Homo sapiens: one gene and its partner. Each later gene encodes a partner of the first gene's protein in a complex. Each region holds a gene or a part of one and is shown in the gene's direction. Other genes may lie near its edges. The genes, in order: ERCC6L and BEND3.

What was found.
Region 2: the proteins of ERCC6L (region 1) and BEND3 are in contact, whole or in part, in a crystal structure (PDB 5JNO), measured with the Homo sapiens proteins. Residues at the interface, in NP_060139.2 of Homo sapiens: Ala10 (codon at 4,430), Glu11 (codon at 4,433), Ala12 (codon at 4,436), Leu13 (codon at 4,439), Ser14 (codon at 4,442), Pro15 (codon at 4,445), Glu16 (codon at 4,448), Ala18 (codon at 4,454), Ala19 (codon at 4,457), Tyr21 (codon at 4,463), Leu22 (codon at 4,466), Arg23, Lys26, Phe51, Pro52, Asn53, Glu54, Lys55; in NP_001073919.1 of Homo sapiens: Glu252, Gln255, Ile256, Gln259, Leu261, Asp265, Arg269, Val272, Gln273, Pro276, Phe279, Ser280, Phe335, Arg338, Phe339, Gln342, Glu346.

Annotation. Positions count from the first base shown.
Region 1 is NC_000023.11:72,235,772-72,243,313, reverse strand, and holds the start of ERCC6L (DNA excision repair protein ERCC-6-like), read left to right. Parts: upstream 1-4,286; 5' UTR 4,287-4,402; coding exon 4,403-4,470; intron 4,471-5,365; exon of another isoform or gene 5,366-5,483; intron 5,484-7,542. UniProt on the Homo sapiens protein: DNA helicase that acts as a tension sensor that associates with catenated DNA which is stretched under tension until it is resolved during anaphase. Functions as ATP-dependent DNA translocase. Can promote Holliday junction branch migration (in vitro).
Region 2 is NC_000006.12:107,105,440-107,112,707, reverse strand, and holds part of BEND3 (BEN domain-containing protein 3), read left to right. Parts: intron 1-6,545; exon of another isoform or gene 6,546-6,631; intron 6,632-7,268. UniProt on the Homo sapiens protein: Transcriptional repressor which associates with the NoRC (nucleolar remodeling complex) complex and plays a key role in repressing rDNA transcription.

The DNA of each region.
Region 1 (7,542 bases):
TGAGACAGAATTTTGCTCTTGTAGAGGCTGGAGTGCAATGGCATGATCTTGGCTCACTGCAACCTCCGCCTCCTGGCTTCAAGCCATTCTCCTGCCTCAGCCTCTCGAGTAGCTGAGATTACAGGCACCTACCATCATGGCCGGCTAATTTTTGTATTTTAGTAGAGATGGGGTTTCACCATGTTGGCCAGGCTGGTCTTGAACTCCACCCACCTCGACCTCCCAAAGTGCTGGCATTACAGATGTAAGCCACCGCACCCAGCCTAGGAAGAGCTTTTTCCTTTTCTTTTCTTTTCTTTTTGAGATGGAGTCACCCTCTGTCGCCCAGACTGGAGTGCAGTAGTGAGATCTTGGCTCACTGCAACCTCCGCCTCCTGGGTTCAAGCAATTCTCCTGCCTCAGCCTCCCAAGTAGCTGGGATTACAGGTACGTGCCATCACACCCGCTAATTTTTGTATTTTTAGTAGAAACGGGGTTTCACCATGTTGGTCAGGCTGGTCTCGAACTCCTGACCTTGTGATCCGCCCGCCTCGGCCTCCCCAAGTGCTGGGATTACAGGCGTGAGCCACTGAGCCCAGCTGGGAGAGCTTTATAAACCCCATTCCCTTGAGAGACGCTGGGGGAATGGGAGCCCTTGATTGGGGTAGATGCATAATGAGGAACAGCAGATAATTAATCGATGTAAAGTGTTTTGAATGGGGCCTGTCACATAAGAGGGATATAGTAGTAACTATTATTTTGACTCTCTTTGATTCTCTCCATTTACCCACTCAAAATCCTCCCAATCTCTCTCTTATTTTCAGGCTGTGAGCCTGGGTGACCATTTATAAAGGAGGACTAGGAGCCTGGGCTGGGGAGTTTCCTGGGTCATCAGAGCCCTGGGTTGAGACCTGGGACTCCAGAAGGCACCAAGAAGGGCCCAAGGGAAGCAGACTACAGGACCGAAGGGGAGGGGAGGAGCAGCCAGAGCTGGGGAGTTTAAAGGAGGAGCCCTACAGCTGTGTGAAAATGGGGCTTAGAAAATCCAATAGCCAAAGGGCAGGCAAGCCGAGTGTTGGTCCTTCCTTCCCGGTGATCAGGGCCTTTAGGCATCACTGCCAGCTGGGAAGCAGAGAGGAGGTAGCCGGGGTTCCTGAGGGAGTTCTCTTTAGCTTTTCTTCACAGCCCACAATGGGGCATGCCTACAACAACCACCAGGGGCCTGCTTTGCTTCATCTTCAGTTCTCAACAATTCCCCGGATATGAGCGATGATGGTGGACCCTGAGCCAAAGCACAACCAGACATGGCCTTCCCCAGACTCAAGATGAAGATTTTTGTGCTCTCATCTCTCTTTTCCTTTCTGCAGAATTCTCTCCTACATCTTCTCCCCTATTCTGCTCTTCTCATCCTACTCATCCTTTGGGTATCCAGGGCGCCTGGACTCTCAACTCATCCTTAGCTCCTTTGTGCTGCTATAATAAAATGCCATAGACTCAAACTCATATTTTTTTTTTTTGAGACGGAGTTTCGCTCTTGTTGCCCAGGCTGGAGTGCCAATGGCGTGATCTTGGCTCACCACAACCTCCGCCTCCCAGGTTCAAGTGATTCTCCTGCCTCAGCCTCCCAAGTAGCTGGGATTACAGGCATGTGCCACCATGCCCGGCTAATTTTGCATTTTTAGTAGAGACAGGGTTTCTCCGTCAGGCTGGTCTCGAACTCCCGACCTCAGATGATCTGCCCGCCTCAGCCTCCCAAAGGGCGGGATTACAGGCGTGAGCCTCCTCACCTGGCCATCAAACTCATAATTTATAAACAATAGAAATGTATTTATTATGGTTCTGGAGGCTGAAGAGTCCAAGATGAAGGTGCCAGCAGGATTGGTATCTGGTGAGGGCTGCTCTCTGCTTCCAAGATGGTGCCTTGTTGCTGCATCCTCTGGAGGGGAAGGAATAGTGTGTCCTTACATGGTAGGAAAGCAGAAGAGCAAAAAGGGCCTAAACTAGCTCCCTCCAGCCCTTTCATAAGGCACTAATTTATTCATGAAGTAGGATCCCTCATGACATTACTTGCTAAAAGGCCCCGCCTCTCAATGCCACCATGGTGGGGATTAAGTTTCAACACAAGAATTTTGAAGGACATTCAGACCATAGCACAGCCCAATCCAAGCTTGCCTCCAGGAAAAGATGTGATTCAAACACTTTAGCAGAGTAAACAAGTTCCTTCATAACCTGGCCTTCAACTGCCTCATCAACCTCATTTCCCGCCACTGCCCTCTTCTTTCCAGTGTGACACAGCGAAACGGCACAGATTTGTGTCCATATGGACCTAGTATTGAATTCTGGCTCTGCTGCTTCCTAGCTCAGGAAGCTTAGATGAAGTCAATTTATCTCTCTGAGCCTGTTTCCACATCTGAAAAATGTGGATAATAGTATACTAAAAGGCCTCTTAATAAAGGCCTTAAAGTCATACAAACCAGGAAAATAGCCCATGTTCTCCAAGATCCCCCACCTCCCCCCAACCCTTTTCTTTTTTTTGAGATGGAGTCTTGCTCTGTCGCCCAGGCTGGAGTGCAATGGCACGATCTCAGCTCACTGCAACGTCTGCCTCCTGGGTTCAAGCGATTCTTCCACCCCAGCCTCCCGAGAAGCTGGGATTACAGGCACCCGCCACCATGCCCAGCTAATTTTTGTAGAGACGGGGGTTTCACCATTTGGCCAGGCTGGTCTTGAACTCCTGACCTCAGGTGATCCGCCCGCCTCGGCCTCCCAAAGTGCTGGGATTACAGGTTCAGTGAGCCACTGAACCCGGCCTCCAACATTCCTTTTAACTCATAACGGTCTATAAATTTTATGAAAAGCTTAAAATTCTCTGGACATATGATGTATGACTGGGCCAATAGGTGAGTTTTCCAATACTGAATGCTAAATTAGTGTCTTGAGGAGTCATGTCTGTGTTCTTAACAGTATATGAACAAGGACAATTTTTGTTGGCCCACAACCTCCTATTTAGTGTCACCCAAGCAAGCCACTTAAACTCAATCACATTTCCTTAAGCTCTAGGCTCTGCCTTCTTTTTAGGCTCTGCATTTGAAAATGACTGTATCTTAGTTGGTGCTTCTGAAGAAATGATGACCACAGCACTACTTCTTTTTTTTTAAATTATTTTTGTCTTCCTTTTATTATACCAAGTATGTGAACCTAGTTACTTATTTCTTAAATAAGAACTTTAATTTTTTTTTTTTTTTTGAGATGGAGTCTTTCTCTGTCACCCAGGCTGGAGTGCAGTGGCATGATCTTGGCTCACTGCAGCCTCCACCTCCAGGGTTTGAGATTCTTGAAGACCCTTCTCTCTTTCTCTCTCTCTTTTTAAGAAAATAAATACAGCATAACGCCCTGTGGAGAAGAAAAAAATTTTTTTTAAAGAGACGGGAGTCTCACCATGTTGCCCAGGCTGGTCTCGAACTCCTAAGTGCAAGTGATCCTCCCACCTTAGCCTCCCAAAAGGCTAGGATAACAGGCGTGAGGCACTGCACCCAGCCTTTTTTTTTTTTTTTTTTTTTTTTGAGATGGAGTCTCGCTTTGCCACCCAGGCTGGAGTGCAGTGGTGCAATCCCGGCTCACTGCAACCTCCACCTCCTGGGTCCAAGCGATTCTCGTGCCTCAGCCACCCGAGTAGCTGGGACTGCGGGCGCCCGCCACCACGCCCGGCTAATTTTTTGTATTTTTAGTAGAGACGGGGTGTCACCATTTTAGCCAGGTTGGTCTCGAACTCCTGACCTCACGTGATCCGCCCGCCCCGGTCTCCCAAAGTGCTGGGATTACAGGCGTGAACCACCGCGTCTGGTCGCTTCTTCAATGTTAGTTTAAATCACAGGGACTATGCCTCCCAGGGTGTTTGAATTCAAAGCACGGTCAGTGCCAGGTACTGGCGATCAAGGAAGGGAAGATATCTGTGGATGCGGGGCAGGGTATGGTTGGGGGACGCAGGCGTTGGAGATCTCCAGGGGTCGCCGCAATGACTGGGATCATATCGGGCAGTCTCCTCCACTCACAATGATGGCACACGCACGCGCGAACGAATTGGCTGCAGCATGGTTTGAATTGGATTGAAACGCGAGGGATCACAGACTGAGGCAGCACACTCCGTGTCTCGAAGGCAGAGATCACCTTCTGCTTCCCGGCGCGCGTAGGCGCAGGCGCCCACCGTCATGGGCGGGGCTCAGGCGGAGGCGTCGCAGCGCGTGGTCGCGGATTGGCCGGCCGCGAGGCCGTCGGTTGGCTGTGTCCCTCTCCACGGCGCACAGAGCATGCGCGGGGCGGGAGTGAGCGAAATTCAAGCTCCAAACTCTAAGCTCCAAGCTCCAAGCTCCAAGCTCCAAGCTCCAAACTCCCGCCGGGGTAACTGGAACCCAATCCGAGGGTCATGGAGGCATCCCGAAGGTTTCCGGAAGCCGAGGCCTTGAGCCCAGAGCAGGCTGCTCATTACCTAAGGTATGTCTGGACCGCTGGGCGGGTCTAGCTAACCGACCTGGCCCAGGGTGGAGGTGGGGTGGCCCCCGGATCCTCCTGGGGACCCGAACTGTTGAGGCGGAGCCTTTTGAGACGCGCGCTCGCGCTCTTCTCGCAGTAGGGTGTGGGAGTCAGCTCTGGATGTTTGACCAGATTTCTAAAACCTGAGGAGACCCCGATGCCTCTTCTTTTGGGCAAATGACCCTCCAGTATGGTCTCCTTAAAAGCCAGAGGAGCCTTAATTAATCAAGCCCTTCTTGATTCTTTTCAGCTTATCAAGCCCTAAGTCTAGGGGATACAGAGATGAGTAAAACAAGGTCCCCGCCCCCAAATTGTTTGTAATCTAGTAGTGGAAACGGATCTGTAAAGCAATAATTACTAGGTTTGATAAGTGCTGTAAGAGGTATAATGTACGTGCAGGGCACAGTGTTGGCATAAAAGAGGGAATGGCCAACTACAAGGGTGGTCAGCTAAGGGATGGCGTGGCAAGAGGAGACATTTGAGCTAGGCGTTGAAAAATGAGTAAACATTCACCAGTTGGCTAAGGGTGGGGGGCGTGGTAATGTTGGGATGAGAATTTAAATTTTTTCTTAAATTGTGGTAAAGTACACATAACATAAATTTTATCTTTTTGTGCAGAAACTGGGTTTTATGAAAAATAAAGTTTATCATCCTAACCATTTTTAAATGTACAGTTCAGTAGTGTTGACTACATTCATATTGTTGTGCAGCCGTCCGTCATCTCCAGAACTTTTCTCATGTGGCAAAACTGAAACTACTCCCATTAAACAAACTCCCCATTTCCCCCTCCCTTCAGCCCCTAGCAACCATTATTCTGTCTCTGTGAATTTTACTGCTTTAATTTTTTTTGAGACAGGGTCTTGCTGTGTCGCCCAGACTGGAATTCAGTGGCCTGATCATAGTTCACTGCAGCCTCGAACTCCTGGGCTCAAGCAGTCCTCCTGCCCCAGCCTCCCTAGTAGCTGGGACTTAAGGTGGGTGCCACCATGTCCAGCCAATTTATTATTTTACTATTGTTGTTTTATATATATTTTTAGAGACAGGGTCTGGCTCTGTCACCCAGGCTGGAGTGCAGTGGCGCGATCTCTAACTCAGCTCACTGCAACTTCCATCCCCCGGGGCTCATGCGATCCTCCCACCTGTTTCCGGAGTAGCTGGGACCACAGGCGCACACCACCACACCCAGCTATTTTTTTTTTTTCTTTTTTTGATACAGTCTCGCTCTGTCACCCAGGCTGGAGTGCAGTGGCGCGGTCTGGGCTCACAGCAAGCTCCGCCTTCCGGGTTCACGCCATTCTCCTGCCTCAGCCTCCCGAGTAGCTGGGACTACAGGCGCCCGCTAACACACCCGGCTAATTTTTTGTATTTTTGGTAGAGACGGGGTTTCACCGTGTTAGCCGGGATGGTCTCAATCTCCTGACCTCGTGATCCGCCCGCCTCGGCCTCCCAAAGTATTTTTTTTGTGTTTTTAGTAGAGACAGGGTCTCGCCATGTTGCCCAGGCTGGTCTCAAACTCCTGAGTTCAAGCAATCCTCCTGCCTCGGCCTCCCAAAGTGTTGAGATTACAGACGTGGGCCACCATGCCAGGCCTTTCATTTAGATTTTTCCAATTGTTTGCCATTATACTTTTGTTGTAATAGGCAGCCTTTGTGTGAATTTTTGTGCACTTCGTAACTGAGTGTACACTTTGGAATTCCGATTGCTGGGTCTTAGGGAATGTGTATTTAAAATTGCCATTCAAGAAAACCATGCCAGATTTTAATAAAGTCAATAGTGTGAGTAAGCATTTATTTATATTCTCTCAGGCTGGTGTGTGATGAGCTATATGAGTCAATTCAAAAGTTAAGATACATAGTTTTACTTTTGAAGCTAAGACTTGTAGTATTTTCTTCTACAGATACACTTACATGAGTGAGCAAAGATGTGTGTGCGTGTGTATACAGTAAGTCCTCACTTAACATTGTCCATAGGTTCTTGGAAACTGACTTTAAGTGAAATGACGTAGCAAAACCAATTTTTTTCTCATCAGTGTTGCAGCAAAATGATATTGAATGAACCAGTGTCATTCAAGGGCCTGCTGTGTGTCATTTTGCTTAAAGTTGCAGTTGCCAAGAACCTACTGACCACGTTAACTGAGGACTTACTGTACATATAAACATATACCAGAGGTGTGTGCCATGAAGCCCGGCTAATTTTTAAAAGATTTTTGTAGGCTGGGTGCAGTGGCTCATGCCTGTAATCCCAGCACTTTGGGAGGGCGAGGCAGGTGCATCACGAGGTCAGGAGTTCAAGACCAGTCTGGACAACATGGTGAAGCCCCGTCTCTACTAAAAATACAAAAATTAGTCAGATATGGTGGCGGGCACCTGTAATCCCAGCTACTTGGGAGGCTGAGGCAGAATTGCTTCAACCCAGGAGGCGGAGGTTGCAGCGAGCTGAGATGGCGCCACTGCACTCCAGCCTGGGCAACAGAGCAAGACTCCGTCTCAGAAAAAAAAGAAAAAAAAGATTTTTGTAGAGATGAAGTCTCACTGTGTTGCCCAGGCTGGTCTTGAACTCCTAGACTCAAGTGATCCTCCCAACTCAGGCTGCCAAAGCACTGGGATTACAGGTGTGAGCCACCATGCCCAGCAGAATCAGACTTTTTATTACACTTACATTATTACACCACCGTTCAAGCATTCTACTCTCCATCTTCTACCTTACTCCCTCTAGAATACCAATTCCAACAAATGTTTGATATTGTTGGGACCTATAGTTCATTGATTCCATCTTTTCACTGTTGCACACCCCTCAGGTTCTCACTTCTCTCCTTACATAGTTTGAAGTTCAGAGTCAATAATTGTGGAGGCTTCCTTGTATACAACTTTAACTTATTTTTTTTCTCTTTCACACTTAATTATACTGGCTTGGCAAGACCATAGCCTTCGTATGGTAAGCAGAGTAATGGCCTCCCGAGGATATCCACATACTAATTTCTGAACCCTGTGAATATGTTACCCTCATATGGTAGAGAGGAATTAAGGTCACTAA
Region 2 (7,268 bases), on another chromosome or scaffold:
CTAGTTTTGTATTTTTAGTAGAGAGGGGATTTCTGCATGTTGGTCAGGCTGGTCTCGAACTCCCGACCTCAGGTCATTCGCCAGCTTCGGCCTCCCAAAGTGCTGGGATTACAGACGTGTACCACCACGCCCAGCGTTTTTTTTTGTTGTTGTTGATACCAGAGATGCCATCTTCTTGCTGAAGAACTAATATAATGGGAAAGTTTTATGTGATTCCGCCTACCTTCTCCATGCCCAGCAAGACGATAGGCTGGTTAGGAACTGGCAGATGAGACAGTCAGCATCCCAACAATCTATTAACAGGTGCCATATTGACACATTTTCTTTACATCCTCTCCCTGTGGGTTCTTTCTTGGCTCCTAAGCACCCCTGTGTGAGCAGAAGCATAGCAGAATGTCCAATAATTACAAAGAGAAAAATTGGAGTGAGCCCTGACACAGGTTTGATTAGGTGAAAATGTAATATCCTATATTAATGTCTCACCTGCTACTTTTTAGCGCTGCCTAGAAAGTCCCTGGAAACAATGAGAAGGAAAACAGCATGTTTATATGAATTGTATTGACACCATGATGAAAAGTTTAAAGACCTCAAATTGTATAATGTAGAAGCATAGAGTATGAAGGTCGCTAGCCAACCAGCAAAAATGATTTGGTGTTTGTATATGGGAGGCTGGGATGTAGTGTTTTTTTCCTGGTGCTTAATTTTTTTTTTTTTTTTTTTTTTTTTGAAACGGAGTCTCACTCTGGTGCCCAGGCTGGAGTGCAGTGGCGCGATCTCGGCCCACTGCAACATCCATCTCCTGGGTTCAAGTGATTCTCCTGCCTCAGCCTCCCAAGTAACTGGGATTACAGGTGCGTGGCACCACACCCATCTAATTTTTGTATTTTTAGTAGAGATGGGGTTTCACCTTATTGGCCAGGTTGGTCTTGAACTCCTGACCTCAAGTGATCCACCGGCCTCAGCCTCCCAAAGTGTTAGGATTACAGGTGTAAGCCATCGCGCCTGGCCTGGTGCTTAATTTTGGTGTTAAGTGATAGGTTTTGGTTGCTAACCTAATTGTATTGTTCCCATCATTGGCTAAGGTAAGCTTGGGGAATTAATTGTAGAATTACTCTTTGGAATGGGAAACCTATTCTGTATCTTTTTAGGGGTGTTTATAGGGATGTGTATGTGTTATCTCTCTCTTTTTTTTTTTCTGAGATGCAGTCTCACTCTGTCACCCAGGCTAGAATGCAGTGGCACAATCTCGGCTCAGTGCATCCTACGCCTCCTGGGTTCAAGTGATTCTCCTGCCTCACCCTCCCGAGTAACTGGGATCACAGGCATGCACTACCATACCCGGCTAATTTTTGTATTTTTAGTAGAGACGGGGTTTCACCATGTTGGCCAGGCTGGTCTCAAACTCCTGACCTTAGGTGATCTGCCCACCTCGGCCTCCCGAAGTGCTGAGATTACAGGCGTGAGCCACCACGCCTAGCCTACATGTGTTATCTTTCATAGAATGATACACTCCTAGAGAGTCAATTTTACTCTGGGAATTTTTGAGACAGGGTCTTTCTCTTTCACCCAACCTGGAGTGCAGTGGCACAGTCTAGGCCCATTGCAACCACTGACTCCCGGGCTCAAGCGATCCTCCCACCTCAGCCTCTCAAGTAGCTGGGCCTACAAGTATGCGCCACCACACCTGGCTAATTTTTTATATTTTTAGTAGATACGGGGTTTCACCATGTTGGCCAGGCTGGTCTCGAACTCCTGAGCTCAAGTGATCTACTTGTGTCGGCCTCCCAAAGTGCTGGGATTGCAGGTGTGAGCCACTGCCTGACCGGGATAAATTTTTAAAATGAAACTTAAATGACTGGGTGCAGTGGCTCACACCTGTAGTCCCAGCATTTTGGGAGGCCGAGGTGGGTGGATCACCTGAAGCCAGGAGTTGCAGACCAGCCTGGCCAACATCGCGAAACCTCGTATCTACTAAAAATACAAAAATTAGCCAGGTATGGTGGTGGGTAATCCCAGCTACTCGGGAGGCTGAAGCGGGAGAATCGCTTGAACCTGGGAGGAGGAGGCTGCAGTGAGCCAAGATCGTGCCACACTGCACTCCAGCCTGGGTGACAGAGCAAGACTCTGTCTCAAAAAGAAAAAGAAAGTCACACACAAAAAAATGTGCTAAAAACTGATTTTTTTGGTGCTTTGTATCACCTTGCTCTGACAGTCTCTTTCCTTCTCCAAATTTGATAATGCTCTTCTTCTGCTTCTGATACGTCAGTATTTCTTGCAACATCATTGTTTCAACCCAGAGCTCTTGTGGTTTCTGGGATTAGCTGCCACAAGTTCCCCACACATGTCAAACTAAGAGCTCTCCATGCCAGTATCAGCCCTCAGAGTGTTAAACAGGAGAGGGGCTGTTTTAAGAGTGGCAGTGAATGCTTGGCATGTTAGTCTGTGAATTTTGTATGAAAACCACTTTTACAAACTATTGTTTTAGAGCTGAAGTTTTCTCAGCAGGTCACCTGATACCATGCTCTCCCTCCAGTTTTTGTAAGACAGAGTCTGGCTGTGTTGACCAGGTTGATCTTGAACTCCTAGGCTCAAGCAATGCTTCCGCCTGAGCCTCTTGAGTAGCTGGGACTATGGGTGCACACCACTGTGCCCAGCTTCCTTTTTTTTTTTTTTTTTTGAGTCAGGGTCTCACTCTGTCACCCAGGATGGAGTGCAGTGGCACGATCACAGCTCACTGCAGCTTCAACCTCCTGGGCTCAAACGATCCTCCCACTTCAGCCTCCCAGGTGGCTGGAACTACAGGCCTGTGCCACCATGCCTGGCTGATTTTTTTGAGACGGAGTTTTGCCCTTGTTGCCCAGGCTGGAGTGCAATGGCATGATCCCGGCTCACTGCAACCACCGCCTCCCAGGTTCAAGCAATTCTCCTGCCTCAGCCTCCTGAGTAGCTGGGATTTCAGGTGTCCGCCACTACGCCTGGCTAATTTTTGTATTTTTAGTAGAGACGCGGTTTCTCCATGTTTGCCAGGCTGGTCTCGAACTCCTGACTGCAAGTGATCCGTCCGCCTCAGCCTCCCAAAGTGCTGGGGCTACAGGCGTGAGCGACCGTGCCGGCAATTTTTTTGTATTTTTTATAGAGATGGGGATTCACTGTATTGCCCAGGCTGGTCTCAAACTCCTGGAGTCAAGTGTTCCAACCTGTCTTTGGCTGAGATTACAGGTGTAAGCCACTATGCCTGCCCCACCTCGATTTTTTTTTTTTTTTTGAGACAGAGTCTTGCTCTGTCACCCAGGCTGGAGTGCAACGGCACTATCTCAGCTCATTGGACCCTCCATCTCCCAGGTTCAAGGATTCTCTTGCCTCAGCCTCCTAAATAGCTGGGATTACAGGCCCGTGCCACCATACCCAGCTAATTTTTGTATTTTTAGTAGAGACGGGGTTTTGTCATGTTGGCCAGGCTGGTCTCTCAACCTCAGGTGATCTTCCCACCTCGGCCTCCCAAAGTGATGGGATTACAGGCATGAGCCACCACGCCCAGACCGCCCCCCGCCCCCACCAATTTTTAATCCAAGTTGAAACGTGTATTTAAAGTCAGCCCTCTTGGCTGGATGTGGTGGCTCATACCTGTAATCCCAGCACCTTAGGAGGCTGAGGCGGGTGGATCTCTTGAGGCCAGGAGTTCGAGACCAGCCTGGCCAACATGGCCAAACCCCATCTCTAGTGAAAAATACAAAAATTAGCCAGGTGTGGTGGCACATGACTGTTGTCCCAGCTACTCGGGAGGCTGAGACAGGAGAATTGCTTGAACGCGGGATGCAGAGTTGCAGAGAGCCGAGGTCGCACCACTGCACTCCATCCTGGGCAACAGAGCGAGACTCCATCTCAAATCAATCAATCAATCAACCCTCTTAATTTTTTTTCTACCTGTGGCCACCTCTCCTCTTGTCTGATTTTCAGTTATTTCTGACTAGTGAAACACAGTTGCATCAGTATCAGGGCATTGATTGCTCAATTGAATAAGTCATTTACTGGCCTTTTCTTGTATGTCAGGGGCTGTTTTGGTTTGAGCATGGAGCTAGCAGAGCGAAGGACTGAGGCTTGCTTAGGATTGGGGGTGCAGTATACACCCAACTGCCCCGAACCCTAATCAGCTTGTGTGGTCACAAAATAAAACACTTGATAAAATGGGAAGTGCAGCGGAAACTCAGCTTATACCTCCTAGGAAAATTAGTCACCGTTGTGCAGTCAGTCACATGGCTGGATGCTGGAATGTGCGGTCCCTCCTTCCACCTTGAGCCTCAGCTTCTGCATGCCAAGGTTAATACGCAGAGTCTCCTGTGAGCCATGTGAGGAGGTAGCCCTCCACGAGGTTGGGGAGAACGTAAGTGGAACTTCTTAGCTGAGGAAGATGGCACATTTACTCAAGACTCAGAAGACGCAAGTGACCAAAGATTAAGACGCCAAATCACAGGCGCGCGGGCAGGGTTGTGCGGCTGTGCTTGGCTGCATGCGGAAGATGAGGTTGTGCTCTGACTGAATAAGGAAGGCAGCTACAATTACAGCTTTAGAAAAACTCTGGGGAAAATTGCCCTGGTTTTGTGAGGACTGGTATTTTTCAAACTGCATTTGCAGATGTGCCTAAAAATAAAAACAAATTGCGAACATGTCCTGCAAGTCCCTTGGGCAGGATGCCACTGCCAAGGGGGCTGGGTCCTGAGACCCTTGAGGCTCCCAGCCGGTCCTGTGAACCCAGAGACCCGCGGCACCAGAGTGGATGGCATGGGAACATTCCTCCTGTCCTCAGGGAGAGCATTTTATTTGGTTTCATCCCCCTCCCTCCAGTTTCTATGTTTCATTGGAAAGAAAAGTTACTAAACCTTTTTAATCTTTTAAGCCATTTTATTTAATTTGCAGTTCTTAAAAATTCACTATTAAAATGTACTTTAGGCTGGGCGGGATGGCTCACACCTGTAATCCCAGAACTTTGGGAGGCCAAGGCAGGTGGAACTTTGAAGCCAGGAGTTCAAGGCCATCCTGGCCAACATGGTAAAACCCCGTCTCTACTGAAAATACAGAAATTAATCAGGCATGGTGGTGCCCACCTGTAATCCCAGCTGCTTGGGAGGCTGAGGCAGGAGAATCGCTTGAACCCAGGAGGCAAAGGTTGCAGTGAGCCAAGATTGTGCCACTGCACTCCAGCCTGGGCGACAGAATGAGACTTTGTCTCAAAAAAATAAAAAAATAAAATGCACTTTAAACATCTTTTCCTTAAAAAAAAAAAAAGAAGCTTTATAATAGGTAACTTTGAGTGCTATGTGTCAGACACTTTCTCCTTTGTAGTTTTCACAAAAACTTTTTGAGGTGAGGTAGATGTGTCCAGCTCCTATTACAGAATACAGCTTGGATGGGTAGGTAAACAGCTGGCCTGGTGTTAGATGCTAAATATTTTAACTCGGTTAAAAACCTTTTTGGGCTGGGTGCAGTGGCTCATACCTGTAATCTCAGCACTTTGGGAGGCCGAGGCGGGTGGATCAGCTGAGGTCAGGAGTTCCAGACCAGCTGGGCCAACATGGTGAAACTCTGTCTCTACTAAAAATACAAAAATTAGCCGGATGTGGTGGTGCATGCCTGTAATCCCAGATACTTGGGAGGCTGGGGCAGGAGTATCACTTGAACCCGGGAGGCAGAGGTTGCAGTGAGCCGAAATTGTGCCACTGCACTCCAGTCTGGGCGACAGAGCGAGACTCCGTCTCAAAAAAAAAAAAAAAAAAGCCCTCTTTGAAAACTGGGCTGGGTTAAGGGTCAGGTGTGGTGGCTTGCATCTGAAATCCCAGCACTTTGGGAGGCTGAGGCCGGAGGGTTGCTGGAAGCCCGGAGTTTGAGACCATTTTGGGCAACACCTGGAGACCCTGTCTCTACAAAAAATAAAAAATTAGCTGGGTGTGGTGGCGTGCACCTATAGTCCTAGCTACTCACAGGCTGAGATGGGAGAATCATCTGAGCCCAGGAGTTCAAGGCTACAGTGAGCTCTGATCATACTGCTGCACTCTGCCTGGGTAACAGAGCAAGACCCCCATCTCTGGGGAAAAAAAAAATGAAAAAACTGGATTAAAAGCCAGGGTTTCATGCAGTTCCATCTGACTCCAAAGTTTAGTAAAGAATTCCATTTTTTGGAGGGTCACCTGCACTAATTCCTGCCTTGGTCACAGACTGGCCCATCTGGCTTGTTGACTTGCTCATGCACCTGCACCCAGCTCACAGCTTAGCAGGAAGAGGGAAAGAAAGCTGGGAGGTCATGGCCCATTCCTCAGTCCCAGCTTCCTTGGAAGGCTGGAATGAAGCTCTCATGCCGGGAGTCTCCTGAAGTCCTTCCTACTCCCTGGTCTCAGCTGCATCCCTTGGGCAGCACAAATCACCCCACCCCCGCCCCGTTCCCTATCTGCACAAGAAGCAGTGCTGGTGGGGACTGTGTGGGTTGACATATGTAACACTTAGAACATGAAGCCTGTGCCACATGAATACTAACTACTGTCCCCCTCTTCTAGGTTTAATTTTTAGAAGTCAATGTCACCTGTAGCAGAGAAGTTCCTTGAAATCAAATCAGACATATGGCAATTGTGAAAAGATTGAAGTAAGGTTTAGGTCTTGGTTAAATTTTTAAAATCCTTGAGTTTGTTTTGTTAATGACTGAGCATATTCTCTCCACTTTACCTTTTGTGTGTGGCAGGGGCCACACAGCCACCATCCCTATTGTTTCAGGTTCCAATCACATTCCTGTTCTGGGGCCCACATTCTCAAGGGAATCTTCTGGTAGTGAGAGTTTGCTTCAGTTTGCATCTGGAAACAGCTCTTAGGGGTAAGGGGGATTTGCCCCTGAGTGGCATGAGGTCAGGGCTGCTGGGGCCAGGTCTTCCTGGACTGGCACCTCAGCACAGTGGCGAGGACATCTCTGATCTAGCAGGGTAAAATCCGGAGTCAGCTGGCTGGAATTTGAACCTCCAGGTTGCAGGAAGCCCAAGTACTTCCCATTTCTGGGCCTGCCGCTTGTCCTGTGTGACTCCCCGGCCCACAGGCCTCTGGCAGCTCTGATTAGGCTCACGCTGCTGTCCCAAAAGACCTGGTCTGTCTGCTCTCTCCACAGCAACTGACTATTCAAAGAACTTGATAGAAAGGTACCCCGGGCCACTCCCAGCCGCCTATGGGTTCACTAGAGAATGTCCTTTTGGAAATCTATGGGCTGGACAGGGAAAAGGCCAGTGATCCTGATC